Regions from separate parts of the Homo sapiens genome. Here all the other regions are linked to region 1. The links come from fine-mapping of genetic effects on gene expression. A gene starts in region 1. Each other region holds a variant in brackets. All regions are shown on one strand. Distances are from middle to middle.

The links. PIP is the estimated chance that this variant, and not a neighbour inherited with it, causes the effect. A credible set is the group of variants that fine-mapping cannot tell apart.
Region 2: its variant is the best candidate, but not a certain one, in a credible set for the expression of TCHP in tibial nerve (GTEx, PIP 0.73).
Region 3: its variant is the best candidate, but not a certain one, in a credible set for the expression of TCHP in whole blood (Lepik 2017, PIP 0.90).
Region 4: its variant is the best candidate, but not a certain one, in a credible set for the expression of TCHP in whole blood (INTERVAL, PIP 0.78).

Annotation. Positions count from the first base shown.
Region 1 is chr12:109,897,391-109,903,237 of GRCh38, reverse strand. It overlaps TCHP (trichoplein keratin filament binding), which reads right to left and starts at 2,964. Exons shown (of 13, transcript NM_001143852.2): 1 at 2,812-2,964; 2 at 24-211. The coding sequence starts at 211. RefSeq lists enhancers at 1,560-2,400, 2,401-3,241 and a silencer at 2,634-2,743.
Region 2 is chr12:109,968,977-109,974,823 of GRCh38, reverse strand. All of the region lies in intron 7 of GIT2 (GIT ArfGAP 2), which reads left to right. It overlaps LOC124903013 (a long non-coding RNA gene), which reads right to left and starts at 1,387. Exons shown (of 3, transcript XR_007063456.1): 1 at 737-1,387. The variant C/T (reference allele first, on the strand shown) is at 2,905.
Region 3 is chr12:109,733,512-109,739,358 of GRCh38, reverse strand. All of the region lies in intron 1 of FAM222A (family with sequence similarity 222 member A), which reads right to left. FAM222A-AS1 (FAM222A antisense RNA 1) reads left to right here. Exons shown (of 3, transcript NR_026662.2): 2 at 3,538-3,768; 3 at 4,766-5,150. Among named protein-coding and RNA genes, the nearest start is that of FAM222A, 23 kb to the right of the region's middle. RefSeq lists a cis regulatory region at 1,501-1,514, enhancers at 1,436-1,580, 2,084-2,583 and a silencer at 2,488-2,688. The variant G/A (reference allele first, on the strand shown) is at 2,302.
Region 4 is chr12:110,725,872-110,731,718 of GRCh38, reverse strand. It overlaps PPP1CC (protein phosphatase 1 catalytic subunit gamma), which reads left to right. Exons shown (of 7, transcript NM_002710.4): 3 at 960-1,190. Among named protein-coding and RNA genes, the nearest start is that of PPP1CC, 14 kb to the left of the region's middle. The variant TG/G (reference allele first, on the strand shown) is at 3,321.

The DNA.
Region 1 (5,847 bases):
ATCGGCAGTTACCGCACAATTACCTCCGCTGGTAGGAGGTTTTAGAGCTCCATTCTGCCTGTTTGGAGCTGCAGATGTCAGACATCCTGAAGTAACGGCTGTTCTGCTCCCACTGCTGCCGAAGCCGGGCCTCCTGCTCTCGCTGTCGTGCTAGCTGCTGATTCAGGCGCTGCTGGCTGCACCAGTAGGACGGCAGCGTCGGGAGCGCCATCTGAGAACAGGAATGGGAGGAAAGTGAGCCACTGCAAATCCCAGGAACCCTCACCAGCTTGGCCTCATCCCTTTAACGAGTGGTCACCACCCCTTGGCTGCACAGTGAAATCAACTGGTGGAACTTTAAAACAAACAAACAAACAAAACCGTGTCTGAGCCCCACTCCAAACTAATTCAATCAAAAAACTTAGTAGGGCCCAGGCACCAGCATTTTTTAAAATGATCTGCCACTAGTGCTGCAAATCATCCTTTTAAATTTGCCGTGGCTCACGCCTGTAATCCCAGCACTTTGGGAGGCCAAGGTGGGCAGATCACGAGGTCAGGAGTTCGAGACCAGCTGCGCCAACATAGTGAAACCCCTGTCTCCACTAAAAATACAAAAAATTAGCCAGGCGTGCTGGTGGGCGTCTGTAATCCCAGCTCCTTGGGAGGCTGAGGCAGGAGAGTCACTTGAACCCAGGAGGTGGAGGTTGCAGTGAACCAAGATTGTCCCACTGCACTCCAGCCTAGGCGACAGTGCAAGACTCCATCTCAAAACACAACAAAACAAAACAAATAAACCTTAGCCAGACACAGTGGCTCATGCCTGTAATCCCAACACTTTGGGTGGCTGAGGCAGGAGGATCACTTGAGGCCGGGAGTTGGAGACCAGCCACATCATGAGACTCATCTCTATAAAAAATCAAAAATTAGCCAGGAGTGGTGGTGCGCCTGTAGTCCCAGCTACTCAGGAGGCTGAGGCAGGAGGATTGCTTGAGCCCAGGAGGTCACGGCTGTAGCGAGCCATGATAGCGCCACTGCACTCAGCCTGGGTGACAGTGAGACTCTGTCTCAAAAAAACAAAAACATAAAAAATTCTGGACTGCGTGCACCCAGCTGTGGGCCAGCCATCACCAGGAACACAACAGACAGACACAGGGATTGTCCTAAGATTGCTAGACTAGGCACATCGGGGGCATTTATGCTGTGCTTAAACAGAGACAATAATGTAAGGAACACATGTATGTGCCAAGCACTCAATACATATGACTTTTTTTCATTCTTACAATCACCTCGCTATTTGGCAGGTAAGGAAACTTACGTTGAAGAGGTAAAGTTGTTGTACCCGAGCGAGTTAGAGAAACGCCACAGTTTGAGACGAAATTAAGAGTCCTTTATTTAGCCAGTGCCCAAGAGACGGCTAATAAATTCTCTTGGCCCGAGGAAGGGGCTTGATTTTCCTTTATACTTTGGTTTAGGAAGGGGAGGGGAGCTCAGATGCAACAATTCTACATAAGTAAAAACATGCAAAAATTAAAAGGACAAAGAGTCACAGAGAAACAATTAAAAGACAAATGGTTACAGAGAAACAACAGTTCCAGGTGCAGGGGCTCTAAATCTTTCATAAAATGTTAGATATGGGTGCTCTGCCCGACACCAACTCAAGGTTTTATGGTGTTATCTTTTGAGCAAAATCCTGGGAACTTCGTACATTGCTTGTTTCAGTACCTTATCAGTTAATTGGACTCTTTGATATGTTGAGATTCTGCTTACACAAGTTAACTCCTTGAGGAAAGGGGTGGGTAAGGAGTCCTTGATGTCTTGTAAATGAGGGAACCAGATGGAGTTCATCCGGCTTTCTCAACTAAGGGAGAGCTAATTCATGTGGAAACAAGGCTAGGTGATTAAGGGGAAAAAAAGAGTCTAAAAGCAAGGTTAGTAAAAACAAGGTAAGGCATTAAAAAACAAGGTTAGTAAAAACAACGTTAAGCATTACAAAGTGATTTGCTCAGGATCACAGAGCCAGGAAGTAAAGGAGATAAACAAGCTGGGTTCCTAATTCATGTCCGTCTGAGACCAGAGCCCAGGCTCTCTCTGCTGCAAGGGGCTGCCTGTTGGGACCAACCTGCCCTGGCTCTGGCAGTCCCCGGGGAGGGGACTGATAATAACACTCGGAAGTATGTTGGGCTACCATGGAGGACAGACCTTTCATCTTGCAGATGAAGAAGCTGAGACCTAGAGAGAGGAATTGCCTGAGCAATGTAGGGATACAGCTGGAGCCTTGAAAGCAGAGAGCAGTCTCACTCCAGGCACCAATTCCCCTGACCCAAAAGCTGTCCTCAAGTGTAGGGTCGATGCAGTGCCTGGGTAGGAACGCCGGCTGAATGAGCGAAAAGGCCTGGTGCACGCCAAGAATCTCATTCTGGAGGTCCTCCAGTTTTGGGGGCAAACACTCTGCGTCTATGGTCCAAATGTAGCCGGCAGGCTGCTAACGTGTGACCTCGGTCTCGAGACCGTGGCAAGCTTCACATACTTTTTTCCCGCTCCCGTAAAGCCGCCAGTGGATCAGTCTTTGCACCAAGAGTTAAAAGTTTAAGATTCCCGTCCCGGATTGGCCACCCACAAGGTGGGCTGCTCCCCGAACACGTCGCATCCCTCTCTCGACCTGAACATGCACGTGCAACAAATGGGGTCACAGCGCGTGGGGAGCGCAGTGAGGACCCCGGAGGCGCCCTGAGCTCGCGCCCGCTGACTGCCGCCCCGGTTCCCGCCCGCGCGGGCCGCCTGCGGGCCCCCGCCCTAACGCCGGATCCGGCCTAGTCCAACCCTCCGACTCACATTTCTCTGAGGCTCGGAGTTTCCGAAGAGTCCCCCGGCCCGACTTCCCGCAGGCACGAAGCGGGCCGGCCAGTCCCCCGGTGTAATTCCCAGACGCGCTACAGCAACGCCGGCTGTTTCCTCCCTGTTTGCACCGGCAACGAGCCCGACGACGGAGCGTCGCAAGGGCCAAGCCTCCTTCAGCGCGTAGGGAGCCTGTGTTTTTCTCTGGTGCCCCGTCGTGGCCAGCGGGAGATAAATAGCAAACGTCGCTGCTCCTTGAAATAGGGAAGCATGGAGGCAAAGAATCCGTCCATGCACTACACGTATTTCAGGATGGTGGTTACCATCACGTGAAGGTGAAGGTGGAAACCAGGGGGAAGAGAATGTAAGTCAGTGGTCCTCAAACCTGGCTGCGCGTGAGAATCACCAGATACCAGCCTGGGCAACACAGAGGGACTCCTGTCTCTAAAAAATTTTTTAAACTTAACCGGGCATGGTGGGACTTGTGGTCCCAGCTACTCGGGAGACTGAGGCGGGAGGATCAGTTGAGCCCAGGAGATCGAGGCTGCCGTGAGCCATGACTGTGCCACTGCACTCCAGCCTGGGTGACAGAGCCAGACACTGTCTCAAAAAAAAGAAGAAAAAATCCAGATACCTTTAAAAAATCCAGATGCCCAAACCAAACCCCAAATCCCATCTGAGAGTATCAGTGTTTTCCAAAATTCCCCAGGTGTGTTCAATGTACAACTTGGGCAGAGGCCTGCTGGCATAAGTAGATGGAAGTTATTGGTAACTTTTTTATTTTTTTGAGACAGAGTCTTGCTCTGTCGCCAGGCTGGAGTGCAGTGGCGTGATCTCGATTCACTGCAACCTCCGCCTTACGGGTTCAAGCGATTACCCTGCCTCAGCCTACCGAGTAGCTGAGACTACAGGCGCACGCCACCACGCCCAGCTAATTTTTTGTATTTTAGTAGAGATGGGGTTTCACCATATTGGTCAGGATGGTCTCGATCTCCTGACCTCGTGATGCGCCTGCCTCAGGCTCCCAAAGTGCTAGGATTACAGGAGTGAGCCACTGCACCCGGCCGATAACTTTCTATTATAGTCTTATATTGGTGGTGAGTTCAAAAGTGTTCATTCTATTAGTATGTTTTATAACTCGTGTGCTACAAGTATTACATGCCAACTATTCCATTAAAAAGAAAATGAAGAAAAATACTTGTTTGTTCTCTTTTCTTTCATTTTCCCATTCTTTCATTTCTTCTTCCCTTCATTTCTCCATTCTTTATTCATCTCTGTTTTTCCTGGATGCAGCATCATGGCCTCAGCTGGGTTCAGTGGCTTACGCCTGTAATCCCAGCACTTTGGGAGGCCCAGGAGGGTGGATTACCTGAGGTCAGGAGTTGAAGACCAGCCTGGCCAACATGATGAAACCCCGTCTCTGCTAAAAATACAAAAATTAGCCGGGCATGATGGCAGATGCTTATACTCCCAGCTACTCGGGAGGCTGAGGCAGGAGAATCGCTTGAACCTGGGAGGCAGAGGTTGCAGTGAGCCAAGATTGCGCTGCTGCACTCCAGCCTGGGTGACAAAGTGAGACTCCACCTCCAAATTAAATAAATAAATGAATACATAAATAAATAAATAAAATTAGCAGGCTGTGGTGGTGCACACCTATAGTCCTAGCAACTTGGGAGGCTGAGGTGGGAGGATCACTTGAGCTCAGGACAAGGAGGCTGCAGTGAGCCGTGATCACACCATTGCACTCCAGCCTGAGTGACAGAGTGAGACCCTGTCTCAAAACATGGTCTCTACAGTCAGAACGCCCAGGTTTCAAGCTATACCATGCTGGTGTAGTCTTGGGCAGGTCACTTCATCTGTCTGTGCCTCAGCTTCCTAGTCCATGGAATGAGAGTAAAAATAGAGCAACTTTCAGGCCGGGCCTGGTGGCTCATGCCTGTAATCCCAGCACTTTGGGAGGCCAAGGCTGGCGGATCTCTTGAGGTCAGGAGCTTCAGACCAGCCTGGCCACATGGTGAAACCCCCGTCTCTACTAAAAATATAAAAATTAGCTGGGCGTGGTGGCAGGCACCTGTAGTCCCAGCTACTCGGGAGGCCGAGGCAGGAGAATCGCCTCAACCGAGGAGACGGGGGTTGCAGTGAGCCAAGATCATGCCACTGCACTCTAGCCTGGGCAACAGAGCAAGACTCTGTCTCAAAAAACAAAGCAAAACAAAAAATAGTGCAGCTTTCTAGGGTTGCCCGTGTGAGAATAAATGGAGCATGCCCAGGAGTAGAGCATCCAGTGCATCCCAGGTGAGCCCAAACTTGAGCCTTCCTTCACATCCCCCTTTAGTTGGCACCTGTTTAATCAGGGTCTGTCCCACTGCGTGCATAAGAGTCCTCAAGTTTCCCTCCCATTAATCCCTACCCCCTTGGGCAAATTCATGGCCACTCTTTCATGTTGTGTCCCCAGTGCAGAGGGGTGGCAGCAGCCCACTGCAGTCACTTAGCAGAGATGCCCACCCAACAAAGGAGACCAACACATAAATGTCTGTCGACAGGAACTTCATAAACACATGAATTGGACCAGGCGTGGTGGCTCACGCCTGTAATCCTAGTATTTTGGGAGGCTGAGGCAGGTGGATCATTTGAGGTCAGGAGTTCGATACCAGCCTGGCCAACGTGGCGAAACCTTGTCTCTACTAAAAATACAAAAATTAGCCAGGTGTGGTGGCATGCACTTGTAATCCCAGCTCGGGAGGCTGAGGCATGAGAATCACTTGAACCCAGGTGGCAGAGGTTGCAGTGAGCCGAGATCTGACCGCTGAACTCCAGCCTGGGCAACAGAGGGAGTCCCTGTCTCAAAAAAAAAAAAGAAAGAAAGAAAGAAAAGAAAAGAAAAAGAAATATGTGAGTTGGGGCAAGGTAAGGGAGACCTGATCCTGATTTTGTGCCTCTTGGGCAAGGCCTTTCCACTCTCTGGGCCTCAGTTTCCTCATCTGTATAATGACCAGATAAGCTCCACTAGCAGAACTTTAGGGCTTAGGGCTC
Region 2 (5,847 bases), 72 kb before region 1:
AAAATCAGTAAGGATATAGAACTAAACCAGACCAAAACCCAACTAGATCTAGTTGATGTTTATAGACTCTTCTACCTGACAACATTAGAATACACATTCTTTTCAAGTACATATTGAACATACACCCAGATAGACCATATCCTGGGTCATAAGACAAACCTTAGCTAATCTAAAAGAATTAAAATTCTATAAAGTATATTTTCAGACCATAATAGTATTAAGCTACAGATAGGTAATACAAATAAAACTGGAGAATACCCAAGTGCTTGGAAGTTGAACAACATGCTGCTTTTTTTTGGAAACAGAGCCTCGCGCTGTTGCCCAGGCTGGAGTGCAGTGGCGCAATCTTGGCTCGCTGCAACCTCTGCCTCCTGGGTTCAAGCAATTCTCCTGTCTCAGCCTCCCTAGTACTGGGATTACAGGCACGTGCTACCACACCCAGCTAATTTTTGTATTTTTAGTAGAGATGGGGTTTCACCATGTTGACCAGGCTGGTCTCCAACTCCTGGCCTCAGGTGATCCACCCACCTTAGCCTCCCACAGTGCTGAGATTACAGGTGTGAGCCACCGTGCCCGGCCCTGAACAACACACTTCTAACTAATCCATCGATCTAAGAGGAAGTCTTAAGGGAAAAAATATTTTCCACTGAATGAAAATGAAAATGCAGCATATCAGAATTTCTGGGATGCAGCCAAAGCAATGCTTAGAGGAAACTTTATAGTATTAAATTCTTACCTTAGAAAAGAAGAAAGGTCTCAAATCATTCTCATCATTATTTTTTGAGATGGTGTCTTGCTCTGTCACCCAGGCTGGAGTGCAGTGATGTGATCTTGGCTCACTGCAACCTCCCCCTCCCAGGTTCAAGTGATTCTCCTGCCTCAGCCTCCTGAGGAACTGGGATTATAGGCATGCAGCACCATGCCTGGCACATTTTTGTATTTTTAGTAGAGATGGAGTTTTACCATGTTGGCCAGGCTGGTCTCTAACTCCCCACCTCAAATGATCTGCCTGCCTCAGCCTCCCAAAGTGCTGGGATTACAGGCGTGAGACACCGCGCCTAGCCTCAAATTATTAATATAAGCTCCTCCCTTAAGAAACTTTAAAAAAAAAAAGAGCAAAATAAACCTGAACCAAACAGAAGGCAGCAAATAGTAAAGAGCAGAAATCAATGAAACTGAAAGAAGGAAACAGTAGCGAAAAATCAATGAAACTGAAAGAAGGAAACAGTAGCGAAAAATCAATGAAACCAAAGCTGGTTTTTCAGAAGGATTAGTAAAACTCATAAATGTCTGGCAATACTGACAAAAAGGAGAGTGTACAGATGGAGTTGTCACTATAAACCCCACAGACATGGAAGGATAATTAAAAAAAAATACAAAGCAGACCGGGCGCGATGGCTCATGCCTGTAATCCCAGCACTTTGGGAGGCTGAGGCAGATAGATCATTTGAGGTGGGGAGTTAGAGACCAGCCTGGCCAACATGGTGAAACTCCGTCTCTACTAAAAATACAAAAATTAGCTGGGCATGATGGTGGGCGCCTGTTATCCCAGCTACTTGGGAGGCTGAGGCAGGAAAATCGCTTAAACCTGGGAGGCAGAGGTTGCAGTGAGCTGAGATTGTGCAACTGCACTCCAGCCTGGGTGACAGAGTCAGACTCCATCTCTAATAATAACAATAATAATAATAGTAATACAGACCAGGCATAGTGGCTCACAGTGGTAATCACAACACTTTGAAAGGCCGAAGTAGGAGGATTGTTTGAGGCCAAGAGTTTGCGACCAGCCTGGGCAACATAGCAAGACCCCATCTACAAAACTGCAACAACAAAAAAATCAGCCTAGCCTGATGGCACGTGCCTGTAGTCCCAGTTACTCTGGAGGCTGAGGTGAGAGGATTGCTTGAGCCCAGGAGGTCAAGGCTACAGTGAGCTGTGTTCGCACCACTGTACTCTAGTCTGGGTGACAGAGTGAGACCCTGTCTCAAAAAAAAATAGAGAAAAATGCAACATAACCAAGTGGGATTTCCAGATAGGCAAGACTGATTTAATATTTGAAAATCAGGCCAGGTGCAGTGGCTCACGCCTGTAATCCCAACACTTTGGGAGGCCAAGGTGGGTGGATCACCTGAGGTCGGGAGTTTGAGACCAGCCTGGCCAACATGGTGAAACCCCGTCTCTACTAAAAATACAAAATTAACTGGGCATGGTGGTGCATGCATGTAGCTACTTGGGAGGCTGAGGCAGGAGAATCACTTAGAACCCGGGAAGCAGAGGTTGCAGTGAGCTGAGATTGCGCCATTGCTCACCTGCCTGGGCGACAGAGCGAGACTGTGTCTCAAAAAAAAAAAAAAATCAGTTAATGTAATCTATCAAGTTAACAGTAAAAACGAAAAACTATGTAATCATATCAGTTGATGCAGAAGAAGCATTCAACAAACTTCAACATCCATTCATGTTTTAAAAAAACTCTTAGCAAACTAGGAATAGATGAGACTTCCTTGATCTGATAAACAGTATCTATTTAATGATGAAAGACTGTGTTTGCTTTCAAATTGGGAGAAAGACTAGGGTGTCCACTCTTACCATTTCTCTTCTACATCACACTGGAAATCCTAACCAGTGCCAAGAGGCAAGAAAAATAAATAAAAGGCATACAGATTGAAAAGGAAGAAATCAAACTGTCCCCATTCAAATGAGATGATTTCTATGTAGAAAATCACAAGGAACCTACAAAAAGGTTTCCAGAACCTTGAGTTAAACAAGATTGCAAGAATACAAGGTCAACAGCCAAAAATCCATATATATATATATATTTTTTTTTCCCTTTTTTTTGAGATAGTCTTGCTCTGTCACCCAGGCTGGAGTGCAGTGGTGTGATCTCGGCTCACTGCAACCTCCGCCTCC[C/T]GGGTTCAAGCAATTCTCCTGCCTCAGCCTCCCATGTAGCTGAGATTACAGGTGCCCCCCACCATGCCTGGCTAATTTTTTGTATTTTCAGTAGAGACAGGGTTTCGCCATGTTGGCCAGGCTGCTCTGGAACTCCTGACCTCAGGTGATCCACCCACCTTGGCCTCCCAAAGTGCTGGGATTACAGGTGTGAGCCACCGCACCCTGCCAAAAATCCATCACATTTCTTTAGACTAGCAGTGAGCAATTGGAAACTGAATCTAGAAAAGCAATACCAGTAATAAAAGCTCCAAATTGGCTGGGCACAGTGGCTCACACCTATAATCCCAGCACTTTGGGAGGCAGAAGGGGGTGGGTCACCTGAGGTCGAGTTCGATACCAGCCTGGTTAACATGGGGAAGCCCTGTCTCTACTAAAAATACAAAAATTAGCTGGGCATGGTGGTGGGCGCCTGTAGTCCCAGCTATTCGGGAGGCTGAGTTAGGAGAATCGCTTGAACCTGTGAGGTAGAGGTTGCAGTGAGCCTGAGATCTTGCCACTGCACTCCAGCCTGAGCGACAGAGTGGGACTCTGTCTCAAAAAAATTAAAAAGCTCCAAATTAAATACTTAGGTATAAATCTAATGAAATACACAATACATGTAGTATCTATATGCCAAAAACTGCTGATGAAAGAAATCAATGAAGACCTGAATAAGTGGAGAGATGTACTGTGCTTATGGATATGAAGACTCAATAACATGTCAATTCTCCACAAGTTAATAAATGTATAAATTTACTTCAATTGAGGATTTTTTATTAGACATAGACATGCTGATTTTAAAATTCAAATGGAGGCCAGGTATAGTGGCTTACGCCTGTAATCCCAGCACTTTGGGAGGCCACGGCGGGAGGACTACTTGAGCCCAGGAGTTTGAGACTATCCTGGGCAGCATGGTGAGACCTCATCTCTACAAATAATAAATTAGCCATGTGTGATGGTGCATGCCTGTGGTCTCACCTACTCAGGAGGCTGATGTGGGAAGATCACCTGAGCCCAGGAGGTTGAGGCTGCAGTGAGCCATGATCGTGCCACTGCACTCTAGCCTTGGCAACAGAGTGAGACCTCATTTCCAAAAATAATAATAATAATTTAAAAATTCAAATGGAAGGGTGAAGGAACTAGAGTAGCCCAGACAATTTTGCAGAAGAATAATGTGGAAGGAAGTACAGCACCCAATTTTTCAGAATTGCTATGAAGCTGTACAGTTCTCAAGACTGTGATATCTATGAAGAGATAGACATATAGACCATTGAAACAGTATAGAGAATCCAGAGATAGATCCACACAAATATGTTCAATTGATTTTTGTCAAAAGTGCAAAGGTAATCAGTTCAGTGGTGGAGGAAGGATAGTTTTTTGTTGTTGTTGTTGTTTTCTGTTTTTTTAAGACGGAGTCTTGCTCTGTCACCCAGGCTGGAGTGCAGTGGTGGGATCTTGGCTCACTGCAACCTCGGCCTCCCGGGTTCAAGTGATTCTTCTGCCTCAGCCTCCCGAGCAGCTGGGACTACAGGCGCACTCTACCACACCCAGGTAATTTTTTGTATTTTTAGTAGAGATGGGGTTTCACCGTGTTAGTCAGGATGGTGTTGGTCGCCTGACCTCGTGAACTGCCCGCATCGGCCTCCCAAAGTGCTGGGATTACAGGCATGAGCCACTGCACCCGCCCCAGGATATTCTTTTTAATGCATTGGGACAACCGGACATCCATGTGCAGGAAAGTGAACTTCAACCTAAACCTCACACCTTACCCCGAAACTAGAAAGGATCATAGATCTAAATGTAAAACCTGACACTGTAAAACTTCTAGAAGAAAATGTAAGAGGTCCGGGCACGGTGGCTCATGCCTGTAATGCCAGCACTCTGGGAGGTCAAGGCGGGTGGATCACCTGAGGTCAGGAGTTTGAGGCTAGCCTGGCCAACATAGTGAAACCCCGTCTCTACTAAAAATACAAAAATTAGCCAGGCATGGTGGTGAATGCCTGTAGTCCCAGCTACTCAGGAGGCTAAGGCAGGAGAATCGCTTGAATCCAGGAAGCGGAGGTTATAGCGAACCGAGATCACACCACTGCACTCCAGCCTGGGCGACAGAGTGAGACCGCGTCTCAAAAAAAAAAAGAAAACATAAGAGAAAATCTTTGTGATCTTGGATGAAAGCTTTTAGCTATCAGCTGAGTATGGTGGCTCACGCCTGTAATCCTAGTACTTTGGGAGGCCGAAGTAGGAGGATCACTTGAGCCCAGGAAGTCGAGGCTGCAGTGAGCTATGACTATGCCACTGTACTCCAGCCTGGGTGACAGAGCAAGACATTGCCTCTGCAAGGGGGAAAAAGAAACCTCTTAAATATAACACCAAAACTCAATGCATAAAAGAAAATATTGATAAATTATACTTCATCAAAATTGAAAATTTTTGGCCAGGTGCAGTGGCTCACACCTGTAATCCCAGCACTTTGGGAGGCCAAGGCAGGTGGATCACCAGAGGTCTGAAGTTCAAGACCAACCTGACTAACATGGTGAAACTGCATCTCTACTAAATACAAAAAGTTAGCCAGGCATGGTGGTGCATGCCTGTAATCCCAGCTACTTGGGAGGCTGAGGCAGGAGAATTGCTTGAACCCGGGAGGCAGAGGTTGCAATGAGCCAATATTGCACCATTGCACTCTAGCCTGGGCAACAAGAACAAAACTCCATCTCAAAAAAAAAAAAAAAAAAAAAAGGAAAAGTTTTGTTCTGAGAAAACTAGTTAAGAAAGTGAAAAGACCAGCAACAGACTGGGAGAAAAATACAGGTATTTGGAAATCACATATCCAGCAAATTACTCATATTTAGAATATTCAAAGAATTTTAAAAACTCAGGCCGAGCACGGTGGCTCACGCCTGTAATCTCAGCACGTTGGGAGGC
Region 3 (5,847 bases), 160 kb after region 1:
ATCTAGCCAGAACTGACCTCCCAATAAAAATGAATGTTCCTGACCTCTCTCTGCCTCCAGCATTTTCCTGATGTGGCAGGCATCTGGAACTTTCCCTCGTGTCCACAGGTCAGCAGTCTGCCCCTTGCCAGGCTGGGTTGACCCCAAGGCAGAATAGGAGGAGGACACACCTGGCTTCACGGCAGGGCCCTGAGATTGTGACCCCGGGAAAGCCATGGGCTGCGCCTCTGAGCCCCCATCTCCTCCTCTACCTCCAATCCCTAGAGCTACCCACCTGGCTTCTGTGGCTCCATTCAAGGCCAAAGCCTAGCTGTGACCTGGAGGGGAAGGTCATGCCAGGCCCTTCCTGGTGTCCAACAGGACTAGTTCAGAGAAGAGAGCTGGCCCCAGAGGCCTCTGGGTTGTACCTGCCAGGCAGGGGCCAGGCACTGGGGTTCTCACTGGCTGGGTGACCTGGAGGAAGTCACAGCACCTCTCTGAGTCTGTTTCCCAAATGAACCTTTATGGGGAGTGGACCAGCTGATAGTATGAGGGCCATCTAACTTGGACATAAGAGGATGTGATCATTTGGTTTCCAAACTTAATCCAGCTGTGTACAAGGTGTGGGGCAGTCCCTGAACTGTGGGCACACAAAGGGGCTCTAGACGTAGCCATTGTCTTTGAGGGACTTAGAATCTCGAGCAGGGACAAGATAGGAAGCTGGCAAAACCCAGCAGTTCATCATGCAAGGAGTAGAGTAGATGGTTCAGACTCTGAATTCCCTTTCAGGAAGTGAATGAGATGCTGGCCACTCCTCAGGGCCTCGCAGCCTTCCTGGGGGTGGTGGCAGGATAGGTGGGTGGTGAGGGAGCCCTCCCACAGTTCTCACCTCCATCCCTCTGGCTGTAATTCAAGTCTCTTCACGCTGCCTGGCCACACAGCCTGCTCCAAAGGCAGATAGGAGCCTGAAATGGTGGTGAGAGGCCCAGGGCCCGGGGAAGAGAATGAATGCTGGATTGGGAATACTAGGGTCAGACCCTGGTGGTGTGGCCCTAAATGGGTCACTTCTCTGTGTTGGTCCCCAGCACCACGAGCTGAGCAAGTAGAAAGCCTCAGAAAGTCCAGACCTCTCTAAATAATGAGGGGCAGCAAACCTGCTTCTGGCCAGGAAGAGTGGAGGGACCCTTGCCCAGCCCAGGAATGTCCTCAGGAATCTAGGTGCAAGCTTCCCCCAACCCCCTTAGGGGCTCCCACGACAGGAAGATCCACTGTCTGTCTCTTTCCTCTCCTCTGTCTACATCCCTGTCCTTAGCTCCACCTGCCTCCTGTCCTGATGCCTCCCTTCTCCTTCCTGCTGTCTCTCTCTCTTTCTCCCTTCCTGACCCCTCTTCCCTTGCTCCTTCCTCTCTCTCCCACCCCGCTTGTCTCAGCAAGGCAGCCAGAGTAGAAGCCCATCCCCACCTCCCTCCTGCCGCTCCCTCCCCCATCTCTGTTCTGAGCCGGAGGCCTTCCAAGGGACCCTGTTAATAATTAAATGTTAATCTAAAAAGCAATTTGAGCTGCGGCTAGGCAGATCTGGTTAGAGATTACATTAGCATGGAGGAGGCGAGGGTAATTTTCTTTAACCCCTCTCCTGATCTCTCAAGCCGGGGATTCTTCAAGTCACACCGGCACTGCTGATTAAACTGGCACAGGGCTTGGCTGTGGATAAGGGGCCTGTGAAAAGTGATTATTTCCCACTGCCATTTGGGCCTCAGCACCAGAAGGGGATTTTTACCTTTTTTTTTTTTTTTTAAGGTTGGGGGCTGGGGAGGTACTGTCCCCTTGAATAGGAGGCCTCATCTTCTGCCAGAATTACCACTGTATCTGTCCCCACCCCAGCAGGCCAGGGGCTCTCTAAAATGCTGCAAATCTTGTCACAGAGCATACCTGGCTCTTTGGTTTCTAGGACAAAGATGCCAGTCCCCTGCCTGGCTCCAACACCCCTCCATTGTGCCTGGTTCTGGGCTGGGCACTAGAGCCAGAGATGCTGGCAGTTCTGAGCCAAAGGGGAGACCAAAAAGTAAAGTGACAATCACCAATTCTGGCTGGCAGCCAGAGTCCTGAGGTGGGCTTCCCTCTGCACAAGACTCTCACCTGCACACTTGCAGGCTTTGGCCCATGCAATCCCAAGAGCCAGGAAGGACTTTTGAGCAGAAGGACTGCTCAAAAGCCCTTTCTGGCTCTCTACCCCTTAAAACTCAACTCGACCTTCAATTGGAGTCCGGGTTCCTGAGGGCTTCTCCAAGACATACAAGGTACATAATAAATGTTTGATGAATC[G/A]TCAAATGACTGGAGTCCCATGTGGCTCTCCTTGATCCTTCCTCTATGGGTTCACGGTGCTACAGCAGTGCCTGAGCACAGGGCCCTCAGGAAAACGTCTCCTGAACAAAGGATGGGCAAGAGGCTGTCCTAGGGAGTTGGGGCAGGGTGGGCCTCAGGAAGTGTCCTACTGGGACACACAGCTGGGGTCTGGGGGTAGGTGGCCATTCCTGGGCCTGTCAGCACCACGGCCAGCTCCCGGCGCAAGAGCCCTGGAGAAAGGGGCGGGGTACAGCCTGAGAGCATAGTGATGTCAGTCGCCATGGGAACTGACAACTGCGATGTGCCTCCGTCAGCACTCCAACCACTGGGGACGGCATGACAGATTAAACACCAACTATGTGCCAGGCCAGGCCCTGTGCTAGATGCTGGGGCAGTGACAGACCCTGAGTGGATGGGAGGCATCAGAGGGGTAATTACAAGGCAGGGAGACAAGCGGTGGCCATGTTGGGGTCACCCTACCTGGCCTGGGGGGGTCATGATGTAAGGACACACCAGCTGCCTCATTAGCAGAGCGACAGTGTCTGTCCCCGACTTCACATCCGGATGTCTGAGCTTTACACCCTAACTCTGTGAGCTTAGGCAAATCCCTCCCTCCTCTCTGAGCCTTAGTTTCTGCGTCTGCAAAAGGGGTTAATTCCTTACAACAAAGTGCCAGGGTCCTTGTGGTAGCTGCCTAAGTGGTACCCGTTGTTAGCATTGTTTATGGTCGCTATCAACAGGTAAGTAGGAAAAAGCTAGGGGAAGGGAAGGATCCCACAGAAGGGACTGCACAGGCCACCACATGGAGACTTGAGAGAGAGGAGCAAACAGAGAACATGAAGGAGCTCCAGGCTGCTGGAGAGCAAACCCTCCTGGTGAGTCACTGAGAGCACCTCACCTATGCAGGGCCAGGCAGGGACCCCCCCAACCTCAGAGCGGGGAGATCTGTTTCCTCTGCACTAGTGCTAGTTCAGGACAGGGACTCAGAGAAGGTGCCAGAAGGAGGGGCAGTCACTGCCACTGGCAACAGGCCTGGCTGGCCCTCTCCCAGAGCCATGGACCTCTGAAGGGCAGTTTCACTCTTCCCAGAGAGCCAGGGATCCCAAGGTGCAAAGTTTGGAGCCAGGGGCAGGCTGAGCCTCTGTTCTCCTAGTTCCAGCCTCGGCTCTTTAATGAAAATTGTCAGTCAAGTAAGACTCCGTCATCACCTTCCAGCAAAGAATGAGTGGGGAGATCTGAGAATCGATACTGAACAGCTTCAGTACTACGATGTCATAATGGGGCTGTGAGCTCAGCCGAAAGCCCCCCGCCCAGTTTTTTTTGGAAGTGGTCATAGAATCTCTCTGGAGAAACAACATGGAAATGGAGACCAAAAGAGGGAAGGAGGGATGCCACCAGATGACACTGGGATCCCGGAAGACGGAACACTGTGTGCAACGGGCAAAGGTAAGACCCACAGTGGAGATGGGAGGGGCCCGGTATCTCTAGCCTTCCTCCCACCTATTCCCCCAGTCCCTGCACCCACAGTTCAGGGTTAAAGCAGGCAACGGGGAAGGAGAAAAATCTAATAGTAAGAGCAATAAGAGCTAGCTTTTATTTTTAGTGTTCTCCACAGGCTCAGTACTTTACAGACGTCACCTCACGTAACCCACGCCACAACCGGGAGAAAGACATGATTGGCGTTGTACCCACGAGGAAACAGAGAGGGAAGGGAGCTGTCCAGGACCACGGGGTTGGTTGGTGGAGCAGGCAGGAAAGCCCCACGGAAGAGGTTGGCCTGGGCCAGACAGGGTTTGAGGATTCAGGCCCCAAGGGACGGGGAGGAAGAAGACTGGGTCCTTGTGCAAGAATGACCCAAGAGTGTTTAGAAGACGCAGTGGCCCAGGTCGGGGGAGGAGAGTGGACAAAAGTGGCTGGCAAGGGCTGGCCTTAGCTTTTAGCCCAATGCTAAGATCAGTAGATGCTTCTGGGGGTCAGGCTGGGGCAGAAATGAATGGAGCCTTCGAGGCAGGGGTTAGGAAACAGGACAGGACACTCGGCCCAAATGACAGCGCCACCACTCCACATCCCAGAGTTCATAAGCTCTCTCAATGTTTGTTTTATTTAAATCTCCAAGAGTCAAACGCCACTCACCACCCATGTGTGGGTCAGTCTCCAGCTTTCCACCTCTGCTGTGAGTGAGGGTAGAGGGGCGTCGTGTCTCTAACCCCTCCTATGGTCAGGGAGCTCCCTCCATGTCATCCGGCCACAGGCACTGTGATTTAGAAAGTGCTGGAGCCAGACCACCTGGGTTCAACCCCCTCCCCCTGTCATAGCCTAGCGGCTGACGGTTAACTGGGGAATTTTCCTTTTCTTCTTTGTGCTTCTCTGTATTTCTAATTTTTCCACAATGAACATGCATGACTTCTGGTTTTTCTTTCTTTCTTTTTTTTTTTTTTTAAAGAACTTTTCAAAAGGGATTTCAACCTCTGACCACCTGGAGACAGGCGACTGGCGCTCATTGTAAATGCACCGACATGACAGGGAACAGCTGCTGGGGAGGTGGAGACGGGTGCCGGGAGAGACAGGAAACCCCAGAGGCTTGGAAATCCAGGAGCCACAGGAAGCAGTGAGCTTTCTGCGGAGCCGGATCCGGTGGAGCCAATTCACCAGCAGGTCCCGGCAGCAACTCTTCTACAACAGATTCCTGCCCGTCCCTGTGCCCCATCGCCCCCCTGCCGTCAATCTCCACCTCAAGGGAGCCAGACCAAGCCTTTCTGTGTGTAGCGCACATCTCTCCTGCGTAGAGCTCACCTAGTGGCTTCCATAGCTTTTTTTTTTTTTTTTTTGGAGACAGGGTCTTGCCCTGTCACCCAGGCTGGGGTACGGTGGCATGATCATGGCTCACTGCAGCTCCCTCCTGGGCTCAAGTGATCCTCCTGCCTCAACCTCTCAAGTAGCTGGGACTACAGTTGTGCACCACCCCACCCAGCTAATTATTATTTTTTGTAGATGTGGGATCTTGCTATGTTGCCCAGGCTGGTCTTGAACTCCTGGCCTCAAGCAACCTTCTCACTTCAGCCTCCCTAAGTGCTGGAATTATAGGTATGAGCCATCCCGCCAGTCTTCCGTGGCTTTTCTAACAATATCCTTGAAGGACCTCTGTGAATCCCTTTCCCAATGTCTATCTGCACTGTCCCTGTCCCAGGCTGATCCTGCTCAGACACGCTGGCTTGCTTTCTGGTCCTCTCACAAGCCAACCCTGTCCCCACCCCAGGGCCTTTGCACTTATGGTTTTGCCTCTACCTAAATACCCTATACCAGTGCTGTCTGATAGAAATATGTAATAATGGGGGCCGGGCGTGGTGGCTCACACCTGTAATCCCAGCACTTTTGGGAGGCCGAGATGGGCAGATCACGAGGACAGGAGATCGAGACCATCCTGGCTAACACGGTGAAACCCCCTCTCTACTAAAAATACAAAAAATTAGCCAGGCGTGGTGGCGTGTGCCTGTAGTCCCAGCTACTCAGGAGGCTGAGGCAGGA
Region 4 (5,847 bases), 830 kb before region 1:
TCAAGGATATGTTGATGACCTTGTATTAGCTAGCAGAATGATTATCCTGTTTGCGAATAGCTTGGAACTACTTAAAAGTAAGTTAAATAGTAGCTTTAGAATAAATACCTCTAATGGACTTAGTTTACTTAGATGTACTTCAGATTTTTAAAAAAAATATTTTGCTGAAGGAATAAACATTGCAAAAGAAAAAAATGAAACTAAGAATGGAGAGCTGAGGAAAGGTCTGAACTACATGGATGTATAGGAATATGTTTAAGTTTAAAGCAACACTGGTTATAGCTAAAAATAGAACTTCCTTGATACTGATTTTGTGGTTCTGTTTTCTGCATAATAGAAGCAAATAATCTGTGTTTTAACTCAATGTAAAACCAAACTTTATTCGTTTGAGTAATATATTCTTATAGCATATTTGCATTGATAAAACTTTGTGTTCATGTTTTTAAAAGTAAAATGTTCTTTGGCATTATCTAGCAGGGAGAAATTGAAAGCTAAATGCATTGATGGGTGGGGGGTGGGGGTGGTGTGTATGTGTGTATGTGCTTTTGTTCAGATGGGGCCAAGACTCACTAGAAGTGCAGCAGTTCTGCTGACACAGTACCCAGAGACTGAGCTGTCAGAGATCTGATATTGATCAGTCAGCCTGAAAGGGATACCATGTTACTTGGCAAGAATGCATGCTTGGACATAATAACCCTTTCCACAGAATAAATTCTTAATAGTTGAATTTTATGTGAGGTTCTGGACATACACATATACTTAAAATTTTTGTTAAGCTCAGTTGAACTAAATATGATATAAGATTGGAAATTACTTAGTGTTGGCTGCCCAGTTAAACTCTCATTACTAGAGGTCAATGCCATTGTACAATGAATATTTAAAGAATGTCTTTCCAAAGCTTTGTTAGTGGATTGAGCTTTAAGTATGGGAACACTGTGTAACAAAATTCTTGCTTCCAGGTGACATCCATGGACAATACTATGATTTGCTGCGACTTTTTGAGTACGGTGGTTTCCCACCAGAAAGCAACTACCTGTTTCTTGGGGACTATGTGGACAGGGGAAAGCAGTCATTGGAGACGATCTGCCTCTTACTGGCCTACAAAATAAAATATCCTGAGAATTTTTTTCTTCTCAGAGGGAACCATGAATGTGCCAGCATCAACAGAATTTATGGATTTTATGATGAATGTAAGTACTTTTCTATATCTAAGGAAGAGTTATTGAAATTAAGATATTTATCATAAACAATTATCACATACTTCTGTTAGGAATTGTGAGAGTTTAGATGCAGTGGTATCATCTCTCATGTTTTCTATTTCATCAACTTGTTTTTAGCTTAGCTTTTTTAGGGGGGTGGGGGAACGGAGTCTCACTCTGTTGCCCAGGCTGGAGTGCAGTAGCACCATCTTACCTCATTGCAACCTCTGCCTCCCAGGCTCAAGCAATCCTCCTGCCTCAGCCTCCCAGGTAGCTAGGACTGCAGACATGCATCACCACGCTTGGCTAATTTGTGTATTTTTTTGAAGAGATGGGGTTTCACCTTGTTGCCCAAGCTGATCTGAAACTCCTGGCTCAAGGAATCTGCCCGCCTAGGCCACTCAAAGTACTGGGATTACTGGCGTGAGCCATGATGCCCAGCCAGTTTTTTCTCTCTTGGGTAGAAAAATAACACTGCCGCTGTAATAAAATAAGGTCTTGGATTCTTTTATGATGTGATGATCAGATTAGGAAGTAATGATCATGGTAATGGTTGCTTTAAGATTTAAATTGTTGTATTCACAGATAACTTAATTCTTAGTAGAAATCTGAGAACCATTCCAAATAGTTTTTTTAAGCAACTTTATTATGTAATTTCATTCCATAAAATTATTCTGTTAAAAGTGTACAATTCAGCGATTTGTAGTAAATTTATAGAGTTATGCGACCATCACCATAGTCCCCAGGCAACCACTAATCTACTTTTTGTCTTTTCTAGAGAATATTGCATGCAAATGGAATCTTGCAATACGTAAATAATTAGTTTTTGAAATTATTATAGTTTTTCTCCTTCTGGCATATCCACACCCAGGAAGAATGGCAATAACTTTCCTAAAACTAAAATGTGCTGAACAAAGATTATTTTTACAGTATTTTACACATTTTGTGACCCATTTTGGATTGTTTAATTAAAGGTATACTTCGATTTGACTATTGACAAAACACAGTTCTTAAAGCTTTGAAAATAGGCTGGGCACAGTGGCTCACGCCTGTAATCCCAGCACTTTGGGAGGCCACAGCGGGTGGATCACAAGGTCAAGAGATCAAGACCGTCCTGGCCAACATGAGGAAACCTCATCTCTACTAAAAATACAAAAATTAGCCAGGCGTGGTGGCAGATGCCTGTAGTCCCAGCTACTCAGGAGGCTCAGGCAGGAGAATCACTTGAACCCAGGAGTCGGAGGTTGCAGTGAGCCAAAATCACACCACAGTAGTCCAGCCTGGGTGGCAGAGTGAGACTCCGTCTCAAAAAAAAAAAAAAAAAAAAGCTTTGAAAATATCAGTTCAGTAAAGGGTTTCAAGTCAGAAAAGGTTTTGAATCTTTACCTTCACCTTCCTTTTGTGCTCATCATTGCTGCCAGGACGGGTTTCAGGTTTGGAGTGAAGAGGTGGTTAAGGAACTTCAGGTACTTGGCATTTGCTAATATGATTATAGGGATATCAGCAAAGGGTTGTCCCTGTGGCCCTCCCCTAGACCACATCGTAACCTAGAGTCTCCAGATGCAGTGTTTTTCCATCTCAATTCACATAGATATGTTGAGCTAGCACATTTGTTAGAAGTGCATCCTAGAAAGATTATATTCACAAACTGAGCCCTTCTACTACCACCCTTTCCCACAACTGGATGTTTGCTTGGTCTGTGACCTTGAGATCCAGCTGATAAGATGGGGTGGCAGGAATCATCAGGGACAAAAATTCTATGGGTTCTGGACTGACTGATAGCATTGAACTTGTACATGAAAGGTATTCAATATTAACAGTGATTCTGTGTCAGAGAAGTACCAGTAAGCCAGTTACTACTCCTTAGGTAGTGAAATGCAAGGCAGGTGTGATGGGTTTTTTTTGTTTGTTTTTGAGACAGAGCCTTAGGCTGGAGTGCAGAGGTGGGATCATAGCTTACTACCACCTGTAATTTCTGGGTTTAAGCAATCCTTTCACCTCAGCCTCCCTAAGTGCTGGGATTACAGTCATGAGCCACCACACCCAGCCAACACTGTGTTTTGGATACTTATTCCAAGTGTTACTCTTGAGTTTTTTGTTTTTTGTTTTTTTTTTTTTTTT[TG/G]AGACGGAGTCTCGCTCTGTCGCCCAGGCTGGAGTGCAGGGCGCGATCTCGCCTCACTGCAAGCTCCGCCTCCTGGGTTCACGCCATTCTCCTGCCTCAGCCTCCCGAGTAGCTGGGACTACAGGCGCCCGCCACTACGCCCGGCTAATTTTTTGTATTTTTAGTAGAGGCGGGGTTTCACTGTGTTAGCCAGGATGGTCTCGATCTCCTGACCTCATGATCCGCCCGCCTCTGCTTCCCAAAGTGCTGGGATTACAGGCGTGAGCCACCGTGCCTGGCCTGCTCTTGAGTTAAAGGATTCCTTTTACATAGCTGTTAGCCCAGCAAATACTTTTCATGTTTGCACTGATGAATTCAAATCCAGTTGACCTCATTTTTGTGACGTGTATCCTAATGTAATGATACTGGCTGCATCAGTTTCGGTTTCTACTTAATGCAGAGGCCTTTAAAAAATGACTTAGAAGATCAGTGTTGGTTGGTATCAGTTTCGACTCCTGTTTGGTCATCAACACAATTTGTAGATCTTATGCTCAAGCTTCCTCTCTCTCATCAGGCAGATATAATTTGCCATCCAGTCTACTTGTGGGCATGAAAGTGCCCTTGACATAGGTGGCTTTTGGTTGAAGGCTTGCAGACATTTAATATATATATAAAATACTTAACTAATTTTATTAAAATGAAAAGTTGTATTCAAATGTTGATTTTCATGGGACAATTTAAAAACCACTGCCTGTTTTCCAGGTACATAAGTACTTTATACTACCATTTCTTTTTTTTTTTTTTTTAACTTTGTAAATGTGATGGAAAGGCTGAGGTATATGTTGTTGGGTAAAACATGAGTGTTTGTTGATCTGTTTCTGCTGCCGTAGCTGTCTGATGTACAGTAATGCGAAACCGCATTACAGGTTATGGCTCAGAATCTTAGGATTTGGAAGCTAGGCGATTACCCTGGCTAAACCTTTCAGGAGCCAGATGTTCCTAGTGGTCTGAGGTAGCCTTAGGGAGGAAATGAAGAGAGAATAGAAAGAGGCAGGCCCACGCTTAAAGTGCTGAGAGGGAAAAGGAGGAAACAAACTGATTTTTGATGGAGAAGCCAGCAGGAATCAGCAGGAGAAGCTGGAGTATGTGGCATAACTAAAGAATCAAAGCCGGGGCGTGGTAGCTCACGCCTGTAATCCCAGCACTTTGGGAGGCCAAGGTGGGTGGATCACTTGAGGTCAGGAGTTCAACCTGATCACAAGAGGTCAGGAGGTCTGACCAACATGGGGAAAACCCATCTCTATTAAAAATACAAAAATTAGCTGTGGTGGTGCACACCTGTAGTCGCGGACACTCAGGAGATTGAGGCAGGAAAATCACTGGAACCTGGGAGACCATGGTTGCAGTGAGCCAAGATTGCGTCGCTTCATTCCCCCTAGGTGATGCAGTGAGACCCCACCTCAAAAAAAGTATCCAGAAGTGAAGCTGACCTTGGGGAAAGAGGAAGTCACTGTCACTGGGGAGCTAAGACAGCAGCTCTGTTTTTATAATACAGGTTAAGTATTCCTTACCGGGAATGCTTGGCACTAGAAGTGTTGCAGGTTTTTTGTTTTTGTTTTTAATTTTGGAATATTTGTGTTATAATTACTGGTTAAACATCCCTAATCCAAAAATCTGAAATCCAGAATGCTCCAGTGAGCATTTCCTTTGAGCATCATGTGAGTGCTCAAAAAGTTCCAAATTTTGGAGCATCTTGGATTAAGGATACTCATCCTGTGGTGGTAGTAGTAGTAGTATTGCTGTTGGAAATGGGAGTTGGTGGTTTTTGGAGATTGCCCTTCAGCCTTTCGTAAGAAGGAGTTTGCTTTTTTTTGAGACGGAGTTTCACTCTTGTTGCCCATGCTGGAGTGCAATGGTGCGATCTTGGCTTACTGCAACCTCTGCCTCCCAGGTTCAAGCAATTTTCCTTCCTCAGCCTGGCGGGAGAAGTTTGTTAAACTTTCCGAACCCCCTAGTGAAGGACCTCTAAAGAAATATGCAACAGGGTGAACCATAGTCAGTGTTAGACCCAGTCATTGAGAAACCAGAAATTATTAGGAGAAAAGATAACACTCCTCTGCAGAGAGAAGGCAAACATTTGTTGAATTTACATTTCATTTCAAGCCCTGTGGTAAACTCCCTAAGCTGCTTGATTTGCATTACAGGGTGGGAGGTGTGGTTCAGGTCAGTTGCTTGGGCTGGCTCTAACTCTCAAAGGAGAGGTATAGGTTTAAACCTTTAGATGTCCCTGTATTCCCCAGGAAAAGAGACTAAGGACAAACTCTTGGTTTGTTTTGTTTGTTTTGTTTTGTTTTTTGAGACGGAGTTTCGCTCTTGTTGCCCAAGCCGGAGTGCAATGGCACAATCAAGGCTCACCGCAACCTCCGCCTCCCAGGTTCAAGTGACTCTTCTGCCTTAGCCTCCCAAGTAGCTGGGATTACAGGCATGCGCCACCACGCCCAGCTAATTTTTATATTTTTAGTAGAGACGGGATTTCTTCATGTTGGT